Regions from separate parts of the Homo sapiens genome. Here all the other regions are linked to region 3. Evidence: fine-mapped expression QTL. A gene starts in region 3. Each other region holds a variant in brackets. All regions are shown on one strand. Distances are from middle to middle.

What was found. PIP is the estimated chance that this variant, and not a neighbour inherited with it, causes the effect.
Region 1: its variant is fine-mapped to the expression of EPPK1 in whole blood (TOPMed, PIP above 0.99).
Region 2: its variant is fine-mapped to the expression of EPPK1 in whole blood (TOPMed, PIP 0.96).
Region 4: its variant is fine-mapped to the expression of EPPK1 in whole blood (INTERVAL, PIP above 0.99). The same link has a PIP of 0.9 or more in iPS cells.
Region 5: its variant is fine-mapped to the expression of EPPK1 in whole blood (INTERVAL, PIP above 0.99).
Region 6: its variant is fine-mapped to the expression of EPPK1 in whole blood (INTERVAL, PIP above 0.99).
Region 7: its variant is fine-mapped to the expression of EPPK1 in whole blood (TOPMed, PIP above 0.99).

Annotation. Positions count from the first base shown.
Region 1 is chr8:143,901,035-143,905,108 of GRCh38, forward strand. No RefSeq gene overlaps it. Among named protein-coding and RNA genes, the nearest start is that of EPPK1, 25 kb to the left of the region's middle. RefSeq lists silencers at 1,467-1,761, 1,498-1,547 and an enhancer at 1,804-2,374. The variant G/A (reference allele first, on the strand shown) is at 1,892.
Region 2 is chr8:143,963,565-143,967,638 of GRCh38, forward strand. It overlaps a transcript of PLEC not described here. Among named protein-coding and RNA genes, the nearest start is that of MIR661, 20 kb to the left of the region's middle. RefSeq lists enhancers at 1,231-2,008, 2,009-2,786, 2,787-3,563. The variant G/A (reference allele first, on the strand shown) is at 2,348.
Region 3 is chr8:143,876,743-143,880,816 of GRCh38, forward strand. It overlaps EPPK1 (epiplakin 1), which reads right to left and starts at 1,725. Exons shown (of 2, transcript NM_031308.4): 1 at 1,696-1,725. RefSeq lists a silencer at 1,779-1,868 and an enhancer at 2,435-3,077.
Region 4 is chr8:143,670,257-143,674,330 of GRCh38, forward strand. No RefSeq gene overlaps it. Among named protein-coding and RNA genes, the nearest start is that of ZNF707, 12 kb to the right of the region's middle. The variant C/G (reference allele first, on the strand shown) is at 2,157.
Region 5 is chr8:143,826,477-143,830,541 of GRCh38, forward strand. It overlaps PUF60 (poly(U) binding splicing factor 60), which reads right to left and starts at 2,839. Exons shown (of 12, transcript NM_078480.3): 1 at 2,804-2,839. The coding sequence starts at 2,827. LOC107986985 (a long non-coding RNA gene) reads left to right here and starts at 2,804. Exons shown (of 3, transcript XR_001746138.2): 1 at 2,804-2,928; 2 at 3,370-3,562. It also overlaps a transcript of NRBP2 not described here. RefSeq lists a silencer at 2,557-3,126 and enhancers at 2,911-3,610, 2,931-4,065. The variant G/A (reference allele first, on the strand shown) is at 1,882.
Region 6 is chr8:143,807,575-143,811,574 of GRCh38, forward strand. It overlaps SCRIB (scribble planar cell polarity protein), which reads right to left. Exons shown (of 37, transcript NM_182706.5): 10 at 3,572-3,771; 11 at 3,332-3,498; 12 at 3,112-3,242; 13 at 2,905-3,030; 14 at 1,977-2,144; 15 at 1,035-1,451; 16 at 1-40. Among named protein-coding and RNA genes, the nearest start is that of MIR937, 3.5 kb to the right of the region's middle. The variant C/T (reference allele first, on the strand shown) is at 2,024.
Region 7 is chr8:143,850,756-143,854,829 of GRCh38, forward strand. No RefSeq gene overlaps it. Among named protein-coding and RNA genes, the nearest start is that of NRBP2, 12 kb to the left of the region's middle. The variant C/G (reference allele first, on the strand shown) is at 2,199.

The DNA.
Region 1 (4,074 bases), 24 kb after region 3:
ATCGTGAGCTCACTGAGTGAGCGAGACTCCGTCTCAAAAAAAAAAAAAAAAAAATTTTGTGTTTTTTGAGACAGGGTCTCCATCTGTTGCCCAGGCTGGAATACAGTGGTATGATCACAACTCACTGCCATGAGTCTGGGAGCCTCGACCTCCAGAGCTCAAGCAATCCTCCCGTCTCAGCCTCCCAAATAGCTGGGACCATAGCAGTGTGCCACCATGCCTGGCTAATTTTTGTATTTTCTGTAGAGATGGGGGTCTCACTATGTTGCCCTGGCTAGTCTCGAACTCCTGGGCTCAAGTGATACTCCCACCTTGACCTCCCAAAGTGCTTGGATTAAGGCGTGAGCTACCACACCTGGCCATTTTTCTCATTTAAAATAGATTATTGGCCGGGCATGGTGGCTCATGCCTGTAATCCGAGCACTTTGGGAGGCTGAGGCGGGTGGATCACTTGAGGTCAGGAGTTTGAGACCAGCCTGGCCAATATGGTGAAATCCCATCTCTACTAAAATACAAAAATTAGCCGGATGTGGTGGTGGTCACTTGTAATCCCAGCTACTGGGGAGGCTGAGGCAGGAGAATGGCTTGAACCCAGGAGGCAGAGGTTGCAGTGAGCTGAGATCGCACCACTGCACTCCAGCCTGGGCAATGAAGTGAGGTTCCATCTCAAAATAATAATAATAATAAAATAAAATAGATTCTCAACTGAAGGTTCTTGGTATTAAGTGGAGACATTAAGTGGAGGGCGTGTGTGTGAGTGCCAGTGGCACCCGCGGACGCTTTTTTCAAATGACGTGTATTCATGGCATGGACTGCCATTTTTCACATTTTCTGTTGACTTTCATTGGTTGGTGCTGCAAATGAGCAGGTCACGCTAAGGCTGTGGGTAATCGCCGCCATCCTCACTCCTCAGCTGATCCTTCCCATGCCCAGAGAGGCTGAAATAAAAATGAAATTTATAATCCTGGCAGGGCGCGGTGGCTCACGCCCGTAATCCCAACACTTTGGGAGGCCGAAGCGGGTGGATCACGAGGTCAGGAGATCGAGACCATCCTGGCCAACATGGTGAAACCCCGTCTCTACTAAAAATACAAAAACAAAATTAGCCGGGCGTGGTGGCAGGCGTGTGTAGTCCCAACTACTCGGGAGGCTGAGGCAGGAGAATGGCATGAACCCGGGAGGTGGAGGTTGCAGTGAGCCGAGATCGTGCCCCTGCACTCCAGCCTGGTGACAGAGCGAGAACTGTCTCAACAACAACAACAAAAAAGAAGAAATTTATAATCCTTTGAGTATTATATATTATAAAGTAACCAGGATCTAGTTGTTTCGTTTTGTTTTGTTTTTTACCAATTGGAATAATTCACGTTTAATGTTTCCAAACCCTTCTGCCTGCAACCGCCGTCCTGGGGATGAGAAATCTCTGGGGAGGAGGAGTTTGGGGGCCAGCATCTTGTGTCGGGGCATGGGTTGTTGAGATGACGCTAGCACCCCCCATCCCCCGCCCCTGCCTACTGGGCTGGTTTCCCCTCCAGGGGGTGAGGTGGCGCCTCCCAGATGGGACACAGCCTGCTGTCCCCACTTTAGTCAGAAAGCAGGAGTGAGACAGGTGGCCGGGACGAGACGCTGGGGCTGGTAGGCGCTTTGCTGCCATCTGCTGGGGAGCCCGCAGCAGCCGCCGCCGTGGACCTTGTGCTGGTGGAAAGCACAAAACCACTGTCCACGTGAAGGCCGCCCATGTCCTGGCAGCGCCCCTGAGGGGTGGCCTCCTGCAACCACCCACCTGCAACCACCCACCTGCAACCACCCAGGGGGCTGCAAAGCCACTCTGCTCGTGCTGGCCTGGCCTCTGAACCTATCACAACATAAGACAGAAGAGGACTGAATGGGGTGC[G/A]GCCCAGCGTACGCTGCTCAGCCTGGTCTTCGTGAATGGGCTCCATCCAGCCTCTGTCCTCAGAGACGGCAGGTGGTGCCTCATCTTCCTGGCAGACCTGGAGGGAGTGTGGGTAGAGTGGGACCCAGCCAGGAGTCCAGGCCCTGAAGCCAAGGGCAGGCCCATGTCTCCACCACCCCACAGTCTAGCATCCTCAGACCAGGCCCAAGAGAAGCCCCACTCCTGAGCAGGGGGAGGGAAGGGGAGGCCGGGGACTCAGGCAGCTGCCCCCTAGAGTGGGAAGGAAGGGCCCCAGCGTTTCCCAGCTCTAGCCCCACTTAGCTTTTGGTCCCTTTGCTGTGGTCCCCAGGGGTGTGGCTTCCTCGGGGGGCTGAAGCCAGCAGTCCCTCAGCAAACACGCACAGGGCTCCAGGGTGGGGGATAAGACTCTGCCCCCAAAAGGCTCTGAAATGTGTCAGGATGTGACATGGTGGAACTGACCAGGTTTCCAGCAGGTCTGCGGGGCTGAGGCTTGCATCCCCTGGGAGGCTGACATGCGCTGTCTGGCACGGAAGGTGGATATCCCCTCAGCTATGCCTTCTTTGTTCACTGGCTGGAATACTTCCGCGATGACAAACCTCCCTCTCATGCTGTTTGGTTACCCAGCGGCCCATCTGCATAGGAAAGACAGAATAAGAGCTTGATTCTTTTCTTTTATTTATCAATTTTAAAAATGTAAGCTTGTTGCCGGGATCTCCTAAGGACGATCAGTTAATTTTTTTTTTTAACTCAGGGATTTAAGCGGGTGAGTTGAGTAAGCTGAAGGTGTCCCATCTTCCGAACGCGTTTCTAGGACGGCAAAGCCTCCTGTTCCGAGACGGGTAGAGCAGGAAGCCACTTCCCACAGATCACAGCTGCCCCATCCCTTCAGGGCGTCCTGCCTTGCCTCGAACTCCTGGGCTCAAGTGGTCCATTCCCTTTCCTTAGAGTGTGGGATGAATGCCTCCAGGAGAGAGGTTCCTCCTCCGGGTCAGCAGCTGCAGCTACCTAAGCATTCTCTTCCTCACCCAGCAGGGCCCGCAGCCCAGGGTTATGGCGAGACTCCAGTTCAGGGTGGCGGCTGCCAGGGAGCTGTGGGTTGGTCGGCTGGAACCAGCTGAGGCCTCAGAACCAAGAAGCCCTTCCATGCCAGGCCCAGGGAGGAGGAGCCTGTTGACAGCGTTGTCCCTGGGACCTGGTGGGCAAACAGGCCGGGGGCGAGAGCTTGGGACCCAGAGACCCGGGTCCTGCCTGCATATGATCCAGTAGGGAGGGCAAGCTGGTCTGCCCCCGAGGCCCAGCCACCGTGCTGGGCTGTCCTGAGAGGCCCTGGAGGACAGGTGCGATGCTCGGTGGGCTGTCTCCACAATATACAAACATCAGTTGTATTTCATGCTAGCAGTAGGCAATCCAAACATGAGACTAAGCAAACAGCTCCACACACAATAGCACTGCAAATAATAAAATACTCAGGAATAAACGTAGCCAAAGAAAGTCAAGACTTGTATATTTAAGACTAGAAAACATTACTGAAGGAAATGAAGAGGACATGATTGAACGGAAAGTCATCTCAGCATCACTCCCCAAGCTGACCTGCAAATTCAGTGCAATCCCCATCACAATTCCACTGTCTCCTGCCTGGGGGCTGCCCCTCCCCATATCAGCCCTCTGCCCAGGACACAAGACTGCTGGGTGGCCTTGTGTGTGTGTTGGGGTGGGAGGGCTCCACTCCTGTCTGTGGCGTGCAGCCCTGCTCAATGCATTCCCAGCACTGAAGAACGGCCTCTCCCAGGGCCCAGCAGTTGGGGCAGCCTTCCTCCTGAGGTAGGAGGCAGGACTCAACTCCGGAGGTGGGGTTTGGACACTGGACCAAAGTGAGGATTAGCTAAAACAAGTGTCTTACAGGGAGGTGGAAGCACCTCCCTGTAAGACACGCCCACCAGTGTGCCATGTCATTTTACCATTCCGTGGTAACACCCAGAAGTTACTGCCCCTTTCCATGGCAACAACCAGACAAGCCAGAAGTTGCCACCCTCATCCTGGAAATTTCTGCATAAACCGCCCCTTAATTTGCATGTAAGTAAAAGTGGGCAGGCTGGATGCCCTGGTTCATCCCTGTATTCCCAGCACTTTGTGAGTCCGAGGTAGGAGGATCACCTCGGCCC
Region 2 (4,074 bases), 87 kb after region 3:
AGTAAAAAGATGGAGAAAAATTTTGCCCCCATCTGGATCCTACCCAGAGCCTCACCAACACCTGATTTAGACACAACTTCGATGATCAGATTTGGGACTTCTGAGCTGATTAAATGTTGTTCTTGTTTTTTTCAAGATGGGGTCTCATTCTGTCACCTGGGTTCAGCCTCCAGGGTTAAGCAATCCTCCTACCTCCACCTCCTGAGCAGCTGGGACTACAGCCATGTGCCACCACACCTGGCTAATTTTTTTTTTTTTTTTTTTTTGAGATGGAGTCTTGCTCTGTCACCCAGGCTGGAGTGCATTGGTGCAGTCTCGGCCCACTGAAACCTCTGCCTCTCGGGTTCAAGCAAGTCTCGTGCCTCATACACCTGAGTAGCTGGGATTATTGGTGTGTACTACCATGACTGGCTGATTTTTGTATTTTTAGTAGAGACAAGGCTTCACCATGTTGGCCAGGCTGGTCTCCTGATCTCAGGTGATCCACCCACAGGCCTCCCAAAGTGCTGGGATTACAGGCGTGAGCCACTGTGCCTGGCTAAGCGGATGGAATTTTAGACTTAGAGCTGATGCTACAATAGGTTGAGACTTTGGGGCATGTTGGCATAAGAAACATTTATTTTGGAAGTGGGGCAGATGTAAGTTTTGAGGGACCAGAGGACAGACTGTAGTGGGTTGAATGGAGGTCCCCAAAAGATATGTCTATGAACAATTCCCTGGAACCCATAATTGGTATCTTATTTGGAAAAAGGGTCTTTGCAGGTGTAATTAACACAAGGATCTTGAGATGAGATCATCCTAGATTACCCAGTAGGGGGCCTAGAACCAATGCCAAGTGTCTTACAAGAGATGGAAGAGAAGCCACAGGGGAGAGGGCCACGGGAGGATGGAGGCCGACACTGGAGTGATGCGGCCACGAGCCCAGGCACCGATGGCCACCAGGAGCTGGAGAGGCCAGGAACAGAGTCCGCCCTGGAGCCTCCGAAGGAGCGTGGCCCTGTCAACATCTTGATTTTGGACATGTGGCCTCCAGAACCGTAAGAGAATACATTTCTGTTGTTTAAGGCCACCCAGTTTGTGGGTACGTGTGACAGCAGCCACAGGAACCTAAAACAGGGCACATTCTCTGGGGGTATCTGTATTCTGTAAACAACCATGCATTCTTGTGGCAGTCATGACAGTGGCGTCCAGCTGTGTCTCTTAGGCCTATCCTGTGCCTGCTCTGTTAGCTTCCCAGGTAGCCACTCGTTTAGCAAGAAAGAAGAGAAAGAGATGCACTTTCAAAAGGTCAAAAGACACATTCATTTGAAAAACAGAGCAGAATAAAAATCATAAAAGCCACAACCAGAGACCTTTACTGCAGCTACCTCCTTCTGCTCCTGCAGACCCACACTTCCAGCCCTGACCAGCCCCACTCCCCCAACCAACCCCCACCCCCCCGCCCACCCTGGTGTGCCCCTGTGGATGGCCTTCCCCACCCTCACCGTCCCACTTGGCCCCAGCCCACCTGACACACCAGCCTGCCCAAGAGCACCCAGACTCACACCAGCCACCCTGATGCCGTCCTGGGGCCTTCCTTTCCTGCAGCACTGGCCCTGGGTCTGCCGCTACTCCTGGAGCCACACAGGGACACAAAGTGATCCCCATCCCATTCCTGGTCCTGGGTCTCCTCTGCCTCCAGGAAGAAGCAGCAACAGTCCTGCCAAGAGCTGACCACCAGCTGGGAGGACTCTTCTGCAGCTAACCAGGACCCAAATCCTGGAGAGCAGGCCCCACAGGCTGATGTCCCAAGTCCTACAGGATCCTGTCTTCCCAGCTGGCACCCTCCTTCCACCGTCTGAACGCGTGTTCCCAACTCCCCTTCCACTGGGCCTACAGATGACCCGGCCCATGCCCCATTTTGGGTCCCTGACCTCATGACCCACGGCCCCTGCTCTCCCAGCCCCGCATCTCCCTACCCACTGTGGGTCTGTGGGCATCACCCATGACCCCAGCGGTGGGAGATCTGGGCACCTGGTCCCACTAGCATCGCCCTTCCCAGCCTCCTCCAGTCCCTTCTTGAGGTACCTGGCCCCTGGCCCCTCTGCTGCCAGCTCCTCTTGGGCCTCACTGGGGAAACTGAGGCCACAGGGCACCACTGCCCACACCCTCCCAACAGCCCAACCCTGGGAAAATCTCCAGGGCCCTCAGTGGTGAGCAGCAGTCTGGACTGGCCACTGATGATGTGTGGCTGGGTAAATGTGAGCGACCACTCAGTACTCACCCTGGGCCAGGTGATGCCCATGCCCCCTGTGACCATGCAGGTCCCTCAGGCCAAGGCCCAGGGAACTCCTTCCCCAGGGAACTC[G/A]GGCCAGCATCCAGCTGAGGCTGTGACCTGCTGCGGCCTAGCCTCCATGTCACCGCTCTGTCCTGGAGAGGGTTCTCCCTCCCTGCCACCCTGCTGGACCCACCATAGCCTGGCACCAGCAGGGCCTCCTGAGCACTTCCCACATGCCCCCTGGCACCTCCAATCCGACGACACCCCAAGCAGTCCCGCTGAGGTCCCAACACCCCTCATCACCTGGTCCCAGCACCATCCAGGCCTCACCCTGCTCCCAACGTGGCCCTGCTTCCTCACGCCCCTTCCTCCTTCGCAGACCCAACAGGCCCCCATGGCTGCACAGCTGCCCACTGCTCTGCTTCCCGGCTGCCTCTTCTCATAGGCACCTAAGCTCTGGAGGACCCCAGGCTCAGAGCTCTGGCCCGAGGCCTGCCCTAGTGATGGCCTCCCAGCCTGGCCTCCCCACCTCAGCCCAGCATTTCCTGCACCTCAGTGTCTGCACACGCATACCTATCTCACAGGCATCTCTGATTTTATGCACCCAAGGCTAAGCGCTGGCTCTTCCGCCCTCTCTGCCGCAGGCACATCCTCTCCACCCCAGGCTGCTCTCTACCTCCACAGCCACCACGGGGGACTCCTCAGCCGCTCCTTGGGAGGCACCAGGCCAGGATCTTGCAGGGGTCCAGCCAGCTCCAAGTCCACCTATCCCTCCCACCCAACGCTTGTTTCAAGCCACACCTGCCACAGGACAGGGCGGGGCTCGGCTGGGGGGGTACAAAAGTGAAGCAACACATAGTCCCCGCGTCAGGAAGCTGGATTCTGCCACAGGACAGGGCAGGGCTCGGCTCGGGGGCACAGAAGTGAAGCAATACACAGCCCCTGCGTCAGGAAGCCGGATTGGTGGAAGGGGAGATGTTTACAATCATCCCTGTAACCCACAAGCCCACGGCCAGACCCTATGAGCGTGACACCAAGCATGACATCGAGCCTCCTTGAACATCTCGACCTCAGCCCCAAGCAAATTCCACAAAGATTAACGACAGAGATGTTTAAAAAAATGCAGCAGTGCTGGAAGCAACTCTCAGCAGATGTTTTTCTAAAAGAAGGCCATTTTAAGCATAGCATAAAATCCAGAAATCATAAAAGACTGGTGAGTGTTAAAAATTGATATGGCTAAAGAAACCACAGACAGAATTAGGCCAGGCGCGGTGGCTCACGCCTGTAATCCCAGCACTTTGGGAGGCCGAGGTGGGCAGATCACGAGGTCAGGAGATCGAGACTGTCCTGGCTAACACGGTGAAACCCCGTCTCTACTAAAAATACAAAAAATTAGCTGGGCATGGTGGCGGGCGCCTGTAGTCCCAGCTACTCGGGAGCCTGAGGCAGGAGAATGGCTTGAACCCGGGAGGCGGAGGTTGCAGTGAGCCGAGATCGCGCCACTGCATTCCAGCCTGGGCAACAGAGCGAGACTCCATCTCAAAAAAAAAAAAAAAAAAAAAAAAAAAGAAACAGACAGAATTAAACAAAAATAGATGCGTGGTGTGAGACCCATCCATGGTGTGCCCAGTGGGGACTCAGCAGGAACTTTCCAGGAGCTGAAAAGTTCTGTTCCGTGAGCTGGTGCTGCCCACAGGCAACTTCGAAGTTTACGCCGAATACAAGTGTCCCTCGGTATCAGCGGGAGATGGGTTCTGGACTCCCCATGGATACCAGAATCCACAGATGCTCAAGTCCCTGATGTAAAAAGGTGTAGT
Region 3 (4,074 bases):
CAGACGAGGGGCTTCTAGGGGGTCAGGGCCCTGCCCTGTCCCCTGACATCCGGCCAGGGATGGCGGTGAGGAAATGAGAGGAGCACCTGATTTCCCAGCAAGGGGGAGGGGCAGTGCGGGCCAGGGTGGGGCAGGGCCAGCGAGGGCGGGGCAGGGCCAGTGAGGGTGGGGACAGCACCTTGGGCGGGCCCCTGACCTGCGCACAGGCCGCCAGCCCAGACAGGCCGCGTGCTAAGCGGGCCTCGTAAGCTCAGGCAAGTGGCTCAAGTTCCCCAAACAAAGAGGAGATCCAGGGAGGAAGGCTGGAGACAGGGCGCTTGGGAGCAGGGAGTCGGGGGCAGGCTTGCCCTGCGTGTGTGAGTGTGCCTGCCAGTGCATGCCCCGCACCATGCGTGAGATGCGGCCTGTGGCTGGCTGCACCACTCCCTATCTCTTCCTGACCTTGGGCCTGGTATGAACCCCTCTGGGCCCTGCCCCTTCCCTGGGCCCTGCCCCTTCCCAGGCTTGGCAGGAGGAAGGCCCGGGAGTGGGTGTCTTGACTCCATGTGGGGCCTGGGAGGGCAGCTGGACAGAGGGTCCGGAGCGAGGGGGGGCAGGGGGTGCAGCTTCGAGTGTGGGGGCATCTGGAGGAGGTGGCTGCTGCCTAGGAGAGCACGGGGTCAGGGTTAGGGTGATGGGGTGGGGAGGAGGCCGAGCAGATTTCCCCGGAGCCTGAGGCACAAAGGGCCCCTCCTGTGGATTCCCCACTTCAGGTGGCCCCCAGGCCCCAAGTGGTGGAGGGCCGTTCCTGAGGAGGGTGGGTCTGCATCTCTTGGGTGAGGTCACTGTCTGTCACCAGACTGCCCGGCAGGCCCCCACCGCAGCCTGGGACAAAGGTTGGGGAGGCTGCAGCCGCCTGCCTGAGTCAGGTCAGGACAGACCCTGGCAGCTGCCTGGGCCCACACAGGAGGCAGCAGCCTTAGCTTCTGCCCGGCTGTGTGCCCTTGTGGGAAGACCCCACCCACCTGCAACCTGCACCATGATCAGAGATCAGTGGCCCCAATAACAAGCTTGGCACAGTGCAGCGGGGGCCCAGGGCAGGGAAGCAGAGCCCTGGGCCCAAGTGATGAACAGGGCCCTTCCTGCCTCTGCCTCCCACGGGTCTCCAGGCGACCGTGTGACCGCTTACCTGACCCGGAGTGGCCACCCCTGGGACCGCTCACCCAACAGCAGGCAGCTTCCCCGGATCCGTGACGCCTCCCTCCCGGCAATGTTGCCAGGAGTCACCCCTCTCAATTTGTCGGCCTAGCTGCCTCCTGGCCTGGGCGTTCCCCACCCTGCAGAGCGTGCCCCGGGCGGTCCTCGCTGCAGGGAAAACCGCTGGGCCTGCGAGACCCCCGCCCCTGGCCGCCTCTCCCGTGAGGGCTCGGGGCCGGCGCCTCCTCTTCACCGGCGCCCGGGACTCAGGGGCGCCACTTCGGACTCGGAGCTCAAATTGCCCAGGGCGGGAAACCTGCCCGGCCAGAGCCCAAGACCCCGCTGGCCGCCGCGCCCCTACCCTGGCCTCGGCGTGCGGCTCCAGCGGGGATCCGGTTTCCTTCGGCGGCCGCCGCCCCGCCCGGCCCCGAGCCCGCACCCGCACCCGCCGCACCTGCCCGCACCCGCCGCACCTGCCCGCACCCGCCGCACCCGCCGCACCCGCCGCACCCGCCGCACCTGCCCGCTCGCCGCTCGGTCCGCAGTGTCTCCGCGCGCCCGCTCCGCCCGCATTTCAAGCCCCACAGGCCCCGCCCCCGTCTAGGGCGGCGCCCAGGTCGGGGCCCCGACGCGGGGCGGGGCGGGGCGGGCAGGTGCCGGAAACCCCGCGCGGCCCGGGCCTGGCGCTTGCACCCCGGGCAAGGGGCGGCGGCTGGGCAGCCGGGACCCTCCCCTCGTCCCCAGCAGGGAGTCACCGCGAAGGAACGCAGGGCGGGCGCGGAGGCGTCCTGTGCCCTTCAGAACAGCTTTTTTTTTTTGGGAAAGGAGTTTGGAGTGAAACGCGGACCGGCCAGAGCGGCGGTTTCTATCCCCACAAGCCACTAATGCGGTGCGGGCTGGTGTCCCTGCCTCCAGCCCCGACCCCACCTTGTCTGCTCAGCTTCCTGGGGACGCTGCTTCACGTCGTGTGTCTGCTGGGTCCAGGGGTCTTCAAGGCTCTCCTTGGCAGGCCCCCCTGCCCCCATGACGTTGTAAGAGCTGGGATGTCCTGCCTGGAGCAGTGCCAGGCCTCACCCCCCGGTCTGGCTCCTCCACCTGGGCACAGAGAATGTTCCCTGTCACCCTGGGAGTACCTGGTCCCCTCTCTGAAGCCCATCCTGGCACCCACCTTCCAAGGCTGGGGCATGCCAGAGACACTGGGCATGGAGGCTCACAGCCTCGGGGGCTGGCCTGGGGGCAGCCTCAGCCTGGCACGGGAACCTTCCATGGATCTTCTGGAGGGCCCTCCCCTTGGCTGCCCCGATATCCCAGGTGGGCAGGGCCACGGAAGTACAGGGCCCAAAGCCCCTCCTCCTCTGTCCCCAAGGCCCCTCCTCCTCTGTCCCGTAGTCCTGGAGGTCCTGAGGGCTCAGGTGCTCCCCACCCCCACAAGTGCCCCCTTCTCCCAAGCTCCAGCCCCCACCTCTGCCTGAGTCATTCTTGACCAGAAAATCATCCAGAGCCAGCCAGCCACCTCCAATGCACACCATGAGGGTAATTGCAGGCGCCCACGCAGGTGCAGGAGGGACAGGTTAGGCCTTCAGGGGTTAGGGTGCTTGGGACCACTGCCCTGGCTCTGCTCTCACCCACCCACCAGGTCCACACTCACACCTGCTCACCCAGGCTGCCTGGACCCTGTCCACACCTGCCACACTGGCCGCACAGCATGGCTGCTGCCGACTGCGGGGCCCTGACCCCAGAGGAGCTCTGGTGGAACCCGCATTTCCCCAAGGCACTGCCAGGCCAACCGCATCCATCCCCAGCCCTGCTCACCGGATGCCTGGACACTGTCTGTGTGGTCTTGCTGGGAGGCATGGTGGTGCTGGCTATGGCCTGTGGCCTGGAGCACACCCCAGAGCCACTTCTTCCTGCGGTGAGCCATTGCAGGCAGCGCCCCTGCCAGGCCACAAAACCTGGGTGTATGCCAGCCCCTCGCTGCAAGAAGGGGGTGTTAGGCTGGCCAGACCAAGCCTTCTTGTGTGCCCAGGGACGGGCCACATGCCTGTCTGCTCCTCACCCCTCCGGTATAGGCAGGTGGCACAGAGCTGGCCCTGCTCCGCTGCACCCATTTCTGCCCGTCACCCCTCCAGTATAGGCAGGTGGCACGGAGCTGGCCCTGCTCCGCTGCACCCATTTCTGCCCGTCACCCCCCTGGTATAGGCAGGTGGCATGGAGCTGGCCCTGCTCTGCTGCACCCACTGGCATCTGTCCCCTGGCTCCTCTCCCTCGGCTTTGTCTTCCTGTGACTCCAGATCCCCTGCCCTGTGGTGGCCCCCAGCCCAGTGACCTCTGGGGACACCTCTGGGGGCAGACTTGGGTGCCTGCCCTACTCCCCAGGTCCCTGGGCCACTCCCAGTCAGGGCTTCTGGGAGCCACCACCTCCCCAGGGGCTCCAGTCCAGTGCTTCAGCCCAGCAGTCCCCGGAGCCACAGGCCACTCCTCCAGCCCCCAGGCCTGGGCCTATACCACCTACACAGCAAGGAAGGGCATCAGGGAGGGTGTCAGGAGGTGAGCGAGAGGGCTCCCATGCCCAGTACTGCCCACGGCTCTACCCACCTCCTCCTGGCACTGGCACCTAGCTTCCCCCTGCAGGTCAGGGAGGCTCTCAGAAGACCTGGTCCAAGGAGGGAGGTCCCAGAGCCCCAAGACCAGTGCCCACGCTGCCCCTGGGCTGCTCCATGGAGTCACCGTGCTGGTTGGAGCCTTTGGCCAGGATCCCCATTGGTCCCTTGGAGCCTGGCATGGCCCAGCTCGAAGGGGAGTGCCCGCCATTGCTCCATAAAGCATCTGGGAGCAGGGTGTCCCCTCCACGGCACATGGCCCAGAGAGGAGACAGGGCAGATGCAGGCAGGATGGAGG
Region 4 (4,074 bases), 210 kb before region 3:
AGACCCAAACCATATCACTCCTGAAGAGCTAGGACTACAGGAATGCTATACCTGGCTAATTGTTTTTCTTTTTTTCGTTTGTTTGTGTTTTTTTTTTTTTAGATGGAGTCTCACTCTGTTGCCAAGGCTGGAGTGCAGTGGTGTGATCTCAGCTGACTGCAACCTCCCAGGCTGGAATGCAGTGGTACAATCTTTGCTTACTGCAACCTCTGCCTCCCGTGTTCAAGAGATTCTCCTGTCTCAGTTTCCCGAGTAGCTGGGACTACAGGCGCCTGCCACCACGCCCAGCTAATTTTTTATTTTTAGTAGAGACAGGGTTTCACCATATTGGCCAGGCTGGTCTTGAACTCCTGTCCTCAGGTGATCCACCTGCCTCAGCCTCCCAAAGCGCTGGGATTACAGGAGTGAGCCACTGCGCCTGGCCACACCTGGCTAATTTTAAAAAAATTTCTTGTAGAAATGAAGTCTCACTATGTTGACCAGGCAAGTGTCAAACTAACTCCTGGCTTCAAATGATCCTCCTGCCTCAGTCTCCTAAAGCACTAGTATTAAAGCTGTGAGCCATCATGGTTAGCCTGTTTTTATATCTGGGAACTGTTGCTGTACAAAAATCAAATATGGGGTTGGAGTGGTTCACATCTATAATCCCAGCACTTCAGAAGGCTGAGGTGGGATGATTGCTTGAGTCTAGGAGTTTGATACCAGCCTGGACAACAGGAAGTCTAGGCTGCAGTGAGCTGTGTCGGGCTGCTGCACCCCAGCCTGGGCAACAGAGCAAGCCCTTGCCTCAAAAAAAGAAATCAAATATGAAGACTAAGAGTTTTAGGATTTGGTGTTAAGAGGTTTTGTTTTGCGTTGTTTTGAATTTTTGTGGGCACATAGTAGGCGTACGTATTTATGGGGTACATGTTTTTGTTTCTTTTTTTTTTTTTTTTGAGACAGAGTCTCACTCTGTCACCCAGGCCGGAGTGCAGTGGCGTGATTTCAGTCCACTGCAAGCTCCGCCTCTCAGGTTCAAGTGATTCTCCTGCCTCAGCCCCCGAGTAGCTGGGACTACAGACGAGCACCGCCACACTTGGCTAATTTTTGCATTTTTAGTACAGACGGGGTTTCATCATGTTGGCCAGGCTGGTCTCGAACTCCGGGCCTCAAGTGATCCACCTGCCTCAGCCTCCCATGGGGTATACGTTTTGATACAGGCGTGCAAAGTGTAATAGTCACATCATGGATAGTGGGGTATCCATCCCCTCAAGCATTTATCCTTTGCGTTACAAACAATCCGATTATACTCTGTTACTTTAAAATGTACAATTAAATTATTATTGAATATAGTCACCCTGTTGTGCTATCAAATACTAGGTCTTATTCTTTCTAATTTTTTTGTACCCATTAGTTAAGGGTTTTTTTTTTTTTGAGACAGAGTTTCACTCTTGTCACTCAGGCTGGAGTGCAGTGGTGAGATCTCGGCTCACTGCAACCTCTGCCTCCTGGGTTGAAGCGATTCTCCTGCCTCAGCCTCCTGAGTAGCTGTGATTACAGGTGCACGCCACCATGCCCGACGAATTTTTGTATTTTTAGTAGAGACAGGATTTCACCATGTTGGCCAGGGTGGTCTTGAACTCCTGACCTCAGGTGATCCACCCACCTCGGCCTCCTGAACTGCTGGGATTATGAGACTTACGGTTTACCAAAGGGGTGCGATGGGCCTTCTGTGTGGTGTCCGCATCCTCTCCTAGCTGGTTTCGGGAGAGTGCCGGCCCTCTGGGGCCTCTCTCCCTGGCTCGCCCTTTAGAAGGGGTTCACATAGTTAGAACCTTAGCAGTAAAGGTAACCTGTGCCTTGCGCAGGGCGGGGGACCTGGTGGGGACCCCAGAGGCAATGGTGTCAGCCCCGGTTATGGACTGGCGTCACTTGCGGCAGCCAGGTCCCACATGCACCCACCCTAATTTAATTAGACCAGGCAGCTAGGCAGGAACACGTTTATTTATTTTTAATTAAGCTTTTTGTGATAATTTTAGATTTGCATGCAGCTGTAAGGTGTTTTACAGAGAGATGCTGGGCACCCTTTACCTCCCTCAGTGGTAGCACCTGGAACCCTGCAGTGCACACAGCTGGGGTATTGATGTTCACAGAGTCAGGATATGGTCCTCACCCTT[C/G]CACAGCCACACCCACTCCCTCCCTCCAACCCTCCTTCAGGGCTGGCAACCATTCATCTGTTCTGTCCATTTCTGTAATTCTTTTTTCTTTTCTTGTCCTTTCCTTTTCTTTTCTTTTTTTCTCCTTCCTTCCTCCCTTCCTTCCTTCCTTCCCTCCCCTCTCTCTTTCTCTCTTTCTTTCTTTTTCTTTTCTTTCTTTTTTTTTGACAGTCTTGTTCTGTTGCCCAGGCTGGAGTGCAGTGGCGCGATCTTAGCTCACTGCAACCTCCACCTTTCAGGTTCAAGAGATTTTCCCAAGCCTCCCAAGTAGCTGGGATTACAGGCATGCACCATGCCTGGCTAATTTTTGTATTCTTAGTAGAGACGAGGTTTCACCATGTTGGCCAGGCTGGTCTGGAACTCCTGACCTCAGGTGATCCGCCTACCTCGCTTAGCCTCCCAAAGTGCTGGGATTACAGGCATGAGCCACAGTGCCTGGCCCATTTCTGTAATTCCATCTTTTCAAGAATGTCCTGTGAATGGAATCATATACAGTATATATGGAATTGTTCTATTGAGGCCCAGTGTCACCAGTACCCATGGATATACAATCTCCTGGTGGGGCCAGGGTGCACCATGGCTCATGCCTGTAATCCCAGCACTTGGGGAGGCCAAGGTTGGAGGATTGCTTGAGGTCAGGAATTTCAGATCAGCCTGGGCACCATATTGAGACCTGTCTCTACAAAAAATTTTGAAAAGTTAGCCAGGTGTGGTGATGCACTCCTGCAGGCCCAGCTACGTGGTGGGCTCAGGCGGGAGGATGGCTTCAGCCCACGAGGTAGAGGTTACAGTGGCTGTTGCTGGGAAAGTGTGATACATGCAAGAGAATGAAGTTGGACCCTCGTCAGTACCACATACAAAAATTAACTAGAAATGGATCATGCTGGGCACCGTGGCTTGCACCGCTTGTACCTGTAATCCCAGCACTTTGGGAGGCTGAGGAGAGTGGATCACCTGAGGTCGGGAGTTCGAGACCAGCCTGGCCAACATGGTGAAACCCTGTCTCTACTAAAAATACAAAAAAAAATTAGCCAGGTGTGGTGGTGCACACCTGAAATCCCAGCTACTTGGGAGACCGAGGTGGGAGAATCCCTTAAACCCGGGAGGCAGAGGTTGCAGTGAGCCGAGATCACGCCACTGCACTCCAGCCTGGGCAACAGAGCAAGACTGTCTCAAAAAAATAAGTAAATAAAGTAAAATAAAAAGTAAAAATGGATCAAAGATCTGGATGCAAGACCTGAAACAGTAAACTCTTGTTAGAAACTGGGAGCAGAAGCTTTTGACACACACTGGGTTTGGCAATGATTCCTTGGACACCAAAGGTACAGGCAACAACAACAAACAGCCAAATGGCTTCGTGAAAATTAAAGCCTTTTGTTCATCAAAGGACACTCCTAAAAGAGTGAAAAGCTGCCCCTTCCCCACAGAACGGGAGAATATCTGCAAATCACGTGTCCGATGAGGGACTCATATCCAAAATATCGAAGGAACTCCTTGTGGAGGCCAAAGCCGCTCCAGCCTGGATGGTGACTATTGTGTGGGCTTTCGACTAACCCGTCCAGGGAAGGCCTCCGACGTTTCCAGGTGATCTGTTGTTCCTTGTGTAAGGGCAGGCACTTGCTATAAACCCTGCCGCAGGGTCAGACGGCCCTGATGCCGCCCATTGTCCTGCACTTCCCTCCCAACCCTCCCCGTGGTACACAAGCCCTGGGCGGGGGCAATGGTGGGATCCAGTATCTCCTCTTGCCGCTGCCAAGACAGACATGGCTTCTTTTTCTAAGTCCCTGTTAAGTGTTTCTTTCTAAGAAACTGGGTTTGTTAGCCTTTTTCTTTGACCTCTCAGCTTCCTCGGACTTTGGAGACAGGTTTACATAGACCT
Region 5 (4,065 bases), 50 kb before region 3:
GGCCGAGGCAGGTGGATTGCTTGAGGTCAGGAGTTGGAGACCAGCCTGGCCAACATGGTGAAACCCCATCTCTACTAAAAATACAAAAATTAGCCGGGCATGGTGGCAAGCACCTGTAATCCCAGCTACTTGGGAGGCTGAGGTGCTACCATGAATTGCCTGAACCCAGGAGGCAGAGGTTGCAGTGAGCCGGGATCACCCCACTGCACTCTAGCCTGGGCGATAAAGCAAAACTCCGTCTCACACACAAAAAGAAAAAAAAAATAATGTGGAGCGAATGACTGAAGGTCCCAAGGTCTCAAGGCTTCAGGCTCCTCAGCTGGGAATGGGGACGGCCTGTCTCCTAGGGCTACTGTGAAGATTCAGTGAAATCCCAACACGCCCCCAACCCCACAACCTGCAGTCCCTGCACATGGAAAGCAGCAAAGCAAGCCACAGGTTCCAGCACTCATCAGTATTAACAACATCCAGTGTCAGATACCCAGGGCAGAGCTGGCTGCAGGACACTGCCTTCTATCTGTCAGTTCCCTTCACACAATGAACACTGCTTACTGCGTGCCCAGGCTCCACAGTGAGCGCTGCAGAGGCCGCAGACACGAGACAAGAGAGAAAGACGTCTCTCTCAGGAGCCTGGTGTCAGCTGCCAGCAAAGAATGCCAAAATCAAAGATGACTTCTGTGGTTTACCAGCACTACGAAGAAAGCACAGGATAAGAAAGGAGTGGCTATGAGCTATGCCAGGCCATGGCAGCCGGGGGCCTCTCTATGAGGTGACATTGCAGGCTGGGGCCTACAGAAGAAAGGAACTGGAACCCCAAGGGTGATGACCCCAAATGAGAGCTGGTCTGGCTGTCAGTGAAGAGAACGGAGCCATGCGTCAAAGTGAAAAGATGCATCCAGAAGACCTACCCTTGCTGCAAAGAGGCAGCCGGCCTCATTCTGCAGCCACCAGGCAGAAGGCATGCCCATGGGAGGGGAGGCCCTTCTGCATCTTCTGGCTTCCTTCCCCACCAGGCCACTGTCAGCCAAGTTCAGCTGCTCCATTCAACCTCCCATGAGAGCTGAAGCAGCATGAGACAGGGGACAGGCTCTCATCACTGTGCCCAACCAGGACGGTGGGAACAGATAACCCTTCTAGAAGCCTTTCCATCCCAATGATTAAAAGAGGAATGGGTTAGACCACAGGCTACAGCTCACTCCTGGAGCCGGATGCAAGCCTGAAACCTGACGATAAAAAAACACGTATTAAACCCAACAGAATTTGGATGGCAACAAACACCCCAACAGACAACCCGTTCGTGGGGTCAGTTATGGCCCACGTCCAACTCAACAATGACACCACCTATCTGGCACCACGCCACAGCAGACCTGAGCCCCCATTTAACCCTCATGAGCACAGGGCGCTGTTCTGCGGGTGCTAGGGGAGTCAGGCATCCACTCTCCTCCTCCACCTTCCCATGTCCAGTCCTTGTCTCTGAGCCTCCTCCTCCTTCACCATCAACTCTCTGACTGCTGCCTGAAGACAGTCACCAGGTCCTCAACCCTTACATCCTTTCTCTCTGGAGTGCCCCTCAAAGGTCACTTACTCCTGTGGCTTCAAGAGAAAGGACATAGTAGAAAGAGTGGAGTTAGCCAGTCCTGTGAATCACACACTGGGCTGCCCTCGCAAGCTGGGTATCTTGTGTAAATGCCTCTCTCCCCCTAGTAACTGGTTTCTGCCTCAGTGGGACATGGGACCAGCCCGCCCGCTGGGGGCCTGGCAATGGCAGTCTAAGGACACTCCCTGGTCCTGCCAGTCCAGCCTTCAGCCATTTGCCCAAGCTGTCTTCTCAAACAGACCTTATCCCATCCCGCTGGGTGTGGGCTGGGGGAAGGGTGACAA[G/A]TAATACAGGGGTAAACTGCGGCTGAGAAAGGTCCAAAAGGGGATTAGGTCCTATAAGCTAAGTGGTGAGAAGGAAAGACCAGACTTCATCGTGCATGTGTTGTGTGCATGGGTGTTCTCCCTCTACGTTAATAACGCCTGCCCTGCCCGGGGAAGTGGGCACTGAGCAGAGCAGGGGGCGACTCACTCCTCTGGATGCCCACGCAGCTCCCTAGGGCGCCCAGCAAATGGCACCCTGGGTGGGAACTGGCTTCTGGTGCGCACTAGACCTCCAACTGCCTGTCTGGTTCCCCACTGCGTCCCCAGATCCTCCCGCAGAGCTGGGGACAATGCGATTTCTCAAAACACGTAGGATGAGAGCGCACGTCCTTCCTTTCCACGTGGAGACAAGAGAATGGAGATAACCAGATCCCTCTCCAGCACCGGAGAACGAATTCACAGCTGCAGGCGTAGTGAGCCAAGGCCGCCCCATGCTCTGAGCTGCAGGCCCCTTTCTACAGGTCCCGTCCCCTTCTGATCCCATCAACCCGAAGGCCCACGCGTCACCCCCAGAACCCCGCTTCCGTCGTGACCACGGCGCACACCCCCGTCGGCAAAGGGAGGACGACGACCCCCGCTTGCCGGACCTAGCGGACAGGAACGCAACCCCGCCAGGCTCGCCCGCAAGGGCCACACGCCGCGCCCAGGCCCCCGCCCCGCCCCGCCGGAAGCTGGGGTCCGCAGGCCGGAAGCTGAGGCCGCGAGCCGGCCGCCGGCGCGCGCCCGCCCCGCCCCCGCCTCACGCGACCCGGGGACACGAGGGAGTCCGCGCGGGACCTGGGAAGACCGCCGCGTTCTTGGGAGGCCCTCCGCGCCCAGGCTGGGTCGACGACCCGGCCCCGCAAGCCGAGGGCCGCCCGCGCTCATGGGGGGGCTCACTTACGAGAGCTATGGTCGCCGTCGCCATCTTGCGTCCGTCGCGGCCTCCGCGCGCGCCTCCCACTCTTGCTCCTTCCGCTGTCTCGCGCGATCTGGGTGCCGGTGCACGGAACTCTCGCGAGGAAGGAGGTAAGAACGCGCTTCCGGGGCGGGGAGGAACGGTAAACGCCCCCGGGAGGGGCGACGGAAGGGGCGTGCTCTTGGCCGGGCGAGGGGCGTGGCCCGCGCACCTCGGGCGTCTAGGGGCGTGCGCCGCGGGACTCGAGTCGGGCGTATCTCTCCGCGTGGCCGACGCGGGCGTGCGTAGTACCCTTCGCCGCCCGTCGCCCTTGCGGCCACTGCTACGCTTCTCTTCTCTGCCTTTTTTGGAGAAAACGCTGTCGCGTGCGTCGTCCAGAGGCTCTCCCCCAGGAGGCAGGCGAAAGAGCGGGGCCCTCCTGGGCTGGAGGAGTCTCGGGTGATGAAAGGCCCGCGTGTTTCAGGCTGACGTCGTGAGATGCGTCGTCCCCGCGTCGCGACATCCCTGGGACCGGGAGGCCCCGTTCAATTGGCAGCTTTTTCTCCTTCCAGGGAACCGATGACCCTAGGTTGGCTGACATCAGTCGCTAGACCCGCAGCCCGCAGGCCCCGTTAGTCCCTGAACTGGCTTTCATGGCCCAAGGTGTCTGTCAGTACTGCTGGGAAAGCTGCCTGTCCTGGACATTTGCCATCTGCTGCACCCAGTCCCGAGACCCCAACTCGGTCATCCGAAGAAGCCACATCTGTAAGCTCAGGCACCTTCAGCTGCCTAAGGCCACAAGGCATCCCGGGCAGGCCTCCTTTCAACCCTGGGAACATTTAGAATTTAATACAGACACTTCTACTTAAATAGGGCAGAATATTCCCCGCCTCCCTCCTGAAACCTTCCAAAATTATAGGAAAGGGGTTTTATAAAGACAAACCCTGCAAGGGCAAAGAGCTGGGATATTGCAGAGCTTAAGAAAGGTGGACAGCGAGAGCTACTCCAGCCCACTTGGCTATGGAGGCCAGTGTCTGAGGGTCGTGGGTGAAAGCACAGCTACAGAAAGGAAACCCCAGACCTCTGTCCCTACCCACCGGGGCTGGCAGGCACTGCAGTGTCTGAGACGTGAGCTCCAGGAGAGGAGCTCTGAGGCCCTGCTCAAGCAAGGCCCTGTCTGAAAGCCTGGGAGTAAGTGAGACTCTGGGTCCTACCCCTGCCTCCACCCCTGGGCTGGGTCTGACCACCCGCATGCCATCAGGCTTCTC
Region 6 (4,000 bases), 69 kb before region 3:
GCTCTATCAGCAGGTTATTGGCCTGGTCAAACGACACTCCCTGTTAGGACAGGACCAGTGAGGCATGCAGGTTAGCCACCGCCAAGACCACCACCACCGCCTCACCCAGCCCCCGCCACAAGCAGAAAGGACAGAGGAGACCACAGCAAGCTCCCTCGACTGCCCTGGCACGGGCGCCTCCATCCTGGAGGCGTGAGTGACACCACACACCTGGGGACAAGCGGGGCTCCAGAGCTGAGCAGAGTCCCACCGGGCTGTCCCTGCTGTGGCCCCTCCGGGCCCCCTCAGCTATCATGCCACTGGCCCACACTCAGGGTCAGAGTGTCATCAAGGGCAGGGATAGTGAGACCCGGGGACTCCCCCTGGAATCTGAGTTTGCCCAGAGAGCAGGTGAGACCCTTTGTGACCCATGGAGAGGAGACTTGAGGGCCAGGGAGGGACACACTGGTGCCCCGAAGGCCTGTGTGGCACCTCAGGAGGGCCCGACAAGGCAGAAAAGAGCCATCAGGGCCTCGGGCCTGCAGTGCCCAACACAAGAGAGGATCCCAGGAGAGCCCAGTGATCTTGGGAGAGGAACAGACCCTGCCCTGGGACCACGACACATGTAGACAGGCCCTGGAGACCCACAAAGAGTGGGCAGCCATGCTTGACTTCTGTGAACTCCGTGCCCGCCAGCAGGTCGGGCAAATACTGGCCAGCAGAGCTGCCTCTGGCACTGAGACCAACGCCAGGGCAGGCCTGGGGTCCAAGCATGGACTGAGACCAACGCCAGGGCAGGCCTGGGGTCCAAGCATGGACTGAGACCAACGCCAGGGCAGGCCTGGAGTCCAAGCATGGACTGAGACCAATGCCAGGGCAGGCCTGGGGTCTGGTGAGAGTGGCCGTGATGCCGACTGTGGAGCACACGTGTCCACCACCTTCTCCGGGTGGCCAGGGGCCAGTGGGTCAGGCCTCGGCCCTGCTCCTGCCGCAGCCCTGGGTGCCCAGGAGGGCCAGGGGAATCTGGGTCAGGCAGGGGTGAGGCTGACACCAACCTTGACAGAGGGCGCAGAAACCACGGCCCCCTCCTTGTCCTCCTCCTCAGTGCTGGCCTCTTCCTCTTCAGCCCTGTTTTCCTCCTCCTCCTCTTCCTCCTCCTCCTGAGGACTACCCTCTTCCTCCTCCTCCTCCTCCTTCTGGGCCCGAGGAGCCCAGGGTGCGTGGGGGCCATTGTGCCAGCCCCCGGGAGCCACAGGGCCCTCCCCATCAGGCTGCATGCCCTGCAGCAGAGCCACAACGGCCTCGGGCTGGGGCAGCTTGGAGATCTTGAAGTGCTTTTTGTAGTGAGGTGTGTCCTTGCGGATGAGCCGCTGCCTCCCGCCTGGCAGGGTCCAGGGGGCCTCAGGCTGCCCCTCCTCGATCTCCCTGTCATCCCCGGGCAGCAGTGCGTCCTCTGCGAAATGCACCGTGGGCTGTGCGGACAAAAGGGTGAGGGTGGCCCCAGCTCTGTGGCTGTGCTTCCACAGGAAGACCCTACTAAACAGTGTGGCCACAGACGGGCTCCGAAAGCCTCCCCGCCACACAAAGACTCAGCACTAACTGCCCAGTGAGGGGCGCGTGTCTCAGCCCTGAGAAAAGCTGAAGGCCAGGGGCTCATCCTGGAGACACGCAGCGCCCCAGGTGGAAACGAAGGGGTGCGCCAAGGCCTCACACCAGGGAGCCCACGGGGGTCAGAAGAGAGTCCAGGGTGGGGGTGGGCTCTGTGAGCCCAGCCGTCAGGGGAGACCTTAACCCCACCTAGGGAGGCAGCTCTCCAGGGCACCCCCAGCAGCACGGCCCTGCACCACCCGTAGCCACTCTGTACAGGGCAGCTCCCCGAAGCATCAGCAGGGCCCAGGCACTGCCTGCACCAAAACCGATCCCAGCTGAGGCCCCGCAGGGGAGGCAGCCCCCACCCAGCAGGCCCAGCCTCCTGCCTCCTTCCTGCCAATCCACACCTCCTGGTAGTCCTCTTCGGCGTCTTCCTCCCCGCCAGCAGTCGTGG[C/T]TTCCTGCTGGCTCCCACCCTGTGCCTCAGCCGACGGGCCCTCGGGCTCAGCCTCAGAGACTGTGCTGGCAGATGGGCGAGAGTCTTCACTCAGGCCAGACTCGGCACTCAGCCGCTTCTCCTGCGGCGGGAAGTGGGGTCAGGCTTCGACGGAGCTCCCGACTCACAGGCTGGCCACCTGGGATGCCCCCCACGTGGCAGGCCTTCCCTGAGCTTCCCGCTGCCCCGACCAGGCACCGTTAACGGGCTCACGCCCTCGCAGCTGCTCCCTGTCCCAGCCTGCAAGGAAGCCACACGCCTCCAAAGCCTAGGGTGGACAAAGCCACGGTTCCACAGCCCAGCCCCAAGGAAAGCCTTTCCTAAAACAAACAAGGACCACACAAGTTCCCAGGAAAATCCCAGCGTGATATGAACCTCCTCCCCTCCCATGCACGGCCCCACACACCCTACCCCAGCCCAGATCACTGGTTCTGCTGCACCCAAAAACCCACAGCACGCATGTCACAGCTCTGAGTGAGAACAGTCAGGCCTGCTCTGTCCCAGTCCCAAACCCCTTCCCAGGTGCCGATGACACCCACGGCAGTTCCACCAGAGACCCTACCCCACAACCAAACCCCATTCCCTGTGCTCCCAGGCACACCCACCACTGGTTCTCCCCATACTCCAGCCCCACAGACCCGCCCTGCACGACCCACACGTCCACCCTGGCACCCTTCACCCAGCTGGCCCTGCAGCTCCATGTCCCTGAAACCTGTCACCAGCCTCATCTCCTGCTCCTTCTCTGTGCTGCCCTGGCCCTCACAGCCCCACTCCCAGGATGGACCGGACCACCACAGCTCCCGGGTCAGCGGCCCGCCAGGTTGCCGTGGCTCCATGCCCACCTCCTCTGCAGGCAAGGGCGACCCAGAGTCTGGCTGGCAAGGGCAGGCCTCGCTCCGCCGCCCCTCGATGCTCCTCTTCATCACCTTGAGCTCGCTGGGGTGAGGTGTGGCCCGGCGCTGTAGGCCCTGTTGTAGGGACAAGGATGAGCAGCAGCCACAGGGCAGGGGTCAGGCAGAGGTTCGCCCCCCAGATCCTCACCCTCATACCCGCTTCTCAGCTGCAGCTTCCTCAGCGTCCTCATCACCTATGGGGGCCTCCAGGAACTGGATGACGCTGACGCGGCTCGGCGGGGCATCGCTCCAGGTCTCCGAGAGGCTCCCCTGCTGCCCAGCATCCTCTGCAGCAGGTGAGCGTCAGGACCCAGGCTAGTCCCCAAACCCTGCCTGAGAGCCACCCCGCGCTAAGCACCGGTTGCCAACAACCTACCGAGGCTGGGTGGGGGCTGCTGGGGCAGCAAGTAGCAGGTGAGCACCTTCTCGCCGGTCCGGGCATCATCCTCCGTCTGGAACCGGAGCATGGGCTGCGCCTGGTTCTCTGCCAGCCACAGGGCCTTGAGATTGAGGTGGGTGAGCGCGAACGGCAGACTCTGCAGGCTGCGGGCCGGGCGGGCACAGTCAGCAGGCGTTGGGGCCACGGTTAGGCCCGCAGGGCAAGGCTGGCACTCACCGGTTCCCCGCCACGTCCAGCACGTGCAGCTCTGTCGTGTGGGCCAGCTCTGGTGGCAGGACGGCCAGGCGGTTGTCCCTCAAGGAGAGGACGCTGAGTGCCACACAGCCCCCGATCTCGGGCGGCAGCGCCTCGAGGTGGTTCCGGTCCACGTTGAGGTTGGTCAGCTTAGTCAGCTTTCCCAGGGAGCGGGGCAGGGCCTGGCCAAGAAGAGGAGGTCAGAGGACGCTAGGGGCTTGCTGGGGGTGGGAAGGAGATGACAGCCCCTGGCAGGAGGGCACAGACACCCCAGGCCAGCTCCAGCCAGGGTCCCTCACAGCCCCTGGAGACCGGGACAAGGACCTGACCACAGAAGCTGTCTCCACCCCACTTCGTGCCCTCTGCTCCCCAAGCTCTGCCCACTGCCCTCAGCCTTCAGTCCCCACCACC
Region 7 (4,074 bases), 26 kb before region 3:
TTTTTTTTTTTTTTTTTTTTTAGTAGAGACAGGGTTTCACCATGTTGGATGTCAGTCAGGCTGGTCTCAAACTCCTGAGCTCAAGTGATCTACCCGCCTCGGCCTCCCAAAGTGCTGCGATTGCAGATGTGAGCCACCATGCCTGGCCTGTCCAGATGTTTTTGAAACAACCCCCACCAGCACTGGAGGGAGTCAAGGGAAGACAAGCCAGGCATCTGAGCTCCTCTGTCTCTGCCTTTCCTTCTCACTGTCCCCAGGGTAACCCATCACCACCCCCATCACGAACCCCATCATGAACCCATCACCAATCCTATCACAAATGCCATCTCGAACCTCAGCACCAGCCCCTTTGTGAACCCCATCATGAACTGCGTCACTAACCTGTCTTCCAAGCCTATTGTCTTGCTGCAAAGTCTACTTTGAATATAAATCAGAATATAGGCCAGACGTGCCGGCTCATGTCTGTAATTCCAGCACTTTGGGAGGCTGAGGCAGGTGGATTGCTTGAGCTCAGGAGTTCAAGACCAGCCTAGGCAACATGGCGAAACCCCAGCTCTACAAAATCTGCTGGGCATTTGTCTTTGACTTTCTAGTCCTTAAAAAAAAATCAGCTGGGCATGGTGGCACACACCTGTAGTCCCAGCTACTTGGGAGGCTAAGGTGGAAGGATCGCTTGAGCCCAGGAGTTCGAGGCTGTAGTGAGCTGTTGTACCACTGCACTCCAACCTGCGTGACAGAGCGAGACCCCATCTCAAAAAAGAAAAAAACAAAAAAAAAGAAAAAAGAAAAATGTGAATCTGAATATTCACTCGTTTTTTCTTTTGGGATTCTTTCCATAACATTCCTAATTTTCTTGCCACTAGAAGGATGACTTGGGCTGATCGGGGAGAAAATCTCTTTTTCGGATAGGAAGAAAAAAGCCACACGAATGTTAAAACTAACAAAAACAACAGTGTGCTTCTCCTTTCTGTCATTCTTGTGGATGTTTTTCAAACACTTCCAGGATTTGAATTTTATTTGTACTCACAACTGCTGAGTGAGTTAAGTGTTATTATGATGACCTTTTTTTTTCTTTTTTCTTTTTTTTGAGACAGAGACTCTGTCGCCCAGTCTGGAGTGCAGTGGCGGGATCTCAGCTCACTGCAAGCTCCGCCTACCGGGTTCAAGTGATTCTCCTGCCTCAGCCTCCTGAGTAGCTGGGATTACAGGCACCTACCACACTCAGCTAATTTTTGTATTTTTAGTAGAGACAGGGATTCACCATGTTGGTCAGGTTGGTCTCGAACTCCTGACCTCATGATCCACCCGCCTCGGCCCCCCAAAGTGCTGGGATTACAGGCCTGAGCCACCGCGCCCAGCCATGATGACCATTTTACAAAAAGGGAAACTGAGGCACTGAGCCATGAAGTCACTTTCGGAAGAGCCCACAGTTATGAAAGAGCAGTGGTGGCACCAAGGGCAGGGGTTCCATCCCAGGACTTGCCATCTGGCCCTTTGTAGGAGCATCCTTTGTACTTAGAGATTGGAGAGAAATTTTGTCAAAAGATCCCAGGAGTCTCCAAATCTACCCTGGTTCTAAACGTGAGGCGCAAGTACCTGGAGCATGGTGACTGAGGGACTCCCCTGGAGTGTGTCTGCCTCCCGTCACCACCTGCCCCAGAGAGTGCCACGTGCGAGTCCCGCTGGGAGGCCCCTGCGTCCTGCTGCCCCGCGGCGCATGCTGCCCAGCGCCCCAGCCTCCTGCACCCAGGCCTCCTCCCAGTCTCCAGCCGGCTGCTGTCCATCCAGATGCCACTCCAGTGCAGCCAGTGGAGCAGGGCCAGGAGTGTAGGTGGCCTGACCATCCCCTTCCCCAGGGCTCTGAGAAAGGCTTCTCCTCCAGCAGTGTTTCTATCCGGGGGGCACAGGGCAGCAGTGACCAGCACAAGCTTGCGGGGCGAGGACACAGCTTGGAGTTGGGCGCTCGTGAGTTCCCACCCTTGCCTTGAGGACCTGGGCTTGTTACACCCCCAGGACTCCGGTTCTTCACCTGTAAAATCAGAAGAGCACTTCTGGAAACTTCTGGGCTGGCAGAGATGGAGCACAGCCACTACAGCTCCTCTCTCCCTTTGGACAGAATATAAAAAGCGACTCCTGGAGGACTGTGAAACGCTAACAGTAGCAGCTGGCTGGGGAGGAAACTCAAAACTTACCAACAA[C/G]TGGCATGGAGGTTTACTGTTTTTGTTTTGTTTTGTTTTGTTTTTCCCCAGCTGTATGTGCGGCTTTGATCTGAGGATGGGGGTGTCTCACAACTGTGCCGTGGGTGCAAAGACCGACAACCCCAATACAAACCCGCCTTTCCCTCTGCAAATAAGAGTGCGTAGGAGAAACCCCCACTTCCCTCTCCTTTCTCTCCTAACCCTGTCCCGGCCTGCTCTTTGGTGGCATCACAGACCCCTGCGATCCTGCACGAGATTCCACCTGTATTGACAGAGGAGCTGGGCACAGGGCTCTGTGGTCCAGAGCGTGTGTGTGCAAGGTCCCTCTCTTATTTTCCCTGTCTTTTCTCTTGCTGTGTTGCCCCGAGCAGGGCCCAAGTCGTGTGAAATGGATGACAGCACAAGGAACTAAGACTCTGAGAAAAACCCTGGCTTTCTAAATGGACTCCTCCTAGGAGCCTGAGTGTATGGGAACCCCACAGAGCAGCGACCTGGAGGAGGGGCCTCCACGCTGAGCATGAAACAACACAAGCTCGGTGCTTGCCTGAGCTGAGCAGCACGTGTGGGGAACAGGCCGCACAGCAACAGCCTTGAGAATTGAGCCAACACGGATCCACTGCACACAGCGGCTGGGATACGGCTTGTGGCCTGACCCAGCCGGGATGAGTGCCCGCCAAAGTGAAAATGCCAACATTCTCAAGCGCGTTCTCGCAGGGCTCAGAGCCTCGCATCTGATTATTTAAAACATCCAGGATACAACCCCAAATTACCCAACATGCCAAGGACTGGAAATTGGATCCGGTCTCAGGGGAAAAGACAGACAGTTGCTGGCAGAACCCCAGGACTCAGATGCTGGAGGGACCAGGAAAAGATTTCACAGCAGCAATTCCAGCCCGATGCTCCCCGCGGCAAGAGTGGACACCCCAAGAATGAGTGAAAAGACAGACGTTCTCAGCAGGTGGAAATGGTAGAAGTGAAAAACATATTACCTGAAGTAAAAAATCACCTGAAGTAAAAAAGCTGGCCAGGCACAGTGGCTCATGCCTGTAACCCCAGCACTTTGGCAGGCCGAGGCGGGCAGATCGCTTGAGTCTAGGCGTTTGAGACCAGCCTGGGCAACATGGAGAAACCCTGTCTCTACTAAAAGTACAAAAATTAGCCAGGCATGGTGGCACACAGCTGTAGTCCCAGCTATTCAGGAGGCTGAGGCATGAGAATCACTTGAACCCAGGAGGCGGACTCCGCAGTGAGCTGAGATCACGCCCCACTGCACTCCAACCTGGGCAACAGAGTGAGACTCTGTCTCAAAGTAAAAAAAAAAAAAAGGCTTACTGAGTGTCTCAATAGCAAAAGGGGGATTACAGAGGAAGGAGTCAGTAAACTTACAAAGAGATCAATAGAAATTATCTAATCTGAAAAACAGGAGAAAAGATTTTTTAAAAAAATGAACAAAGCTTCAGAGAGCTGTGAAACAATATCAAAACATCTATCACTTTTGTATTTGAAGTTCCAGAAGGGGAATGGAAAGATATTAGTACATAAAACATTTATTTTGAAGAAATAATGGCAGAAAAGTTCTCTAATTTAGTGAAAGATATAAACTTATGAAAATCAAAAAGTTTGGCCAACTCCAGATGGGATAAACTCAAATCAAATATTTTATGTATTTATATGTGTAAAATTCCTCACCAGCAGACTTTATTTACTTTTTTTGAGAGGACACAGCTTGGAGTGGGCGCTCATGAGTTCCCACCCACGAGCCAAGGTGGACACTCACTCTGTTGCTCAGGCTGGAGTGCAATGGTGTGATCTTGGCTCACTGCAACCTCCACTTCTTGGGTTCGAGTGATTCTCCCACCTCATCCTCCCGTGATTA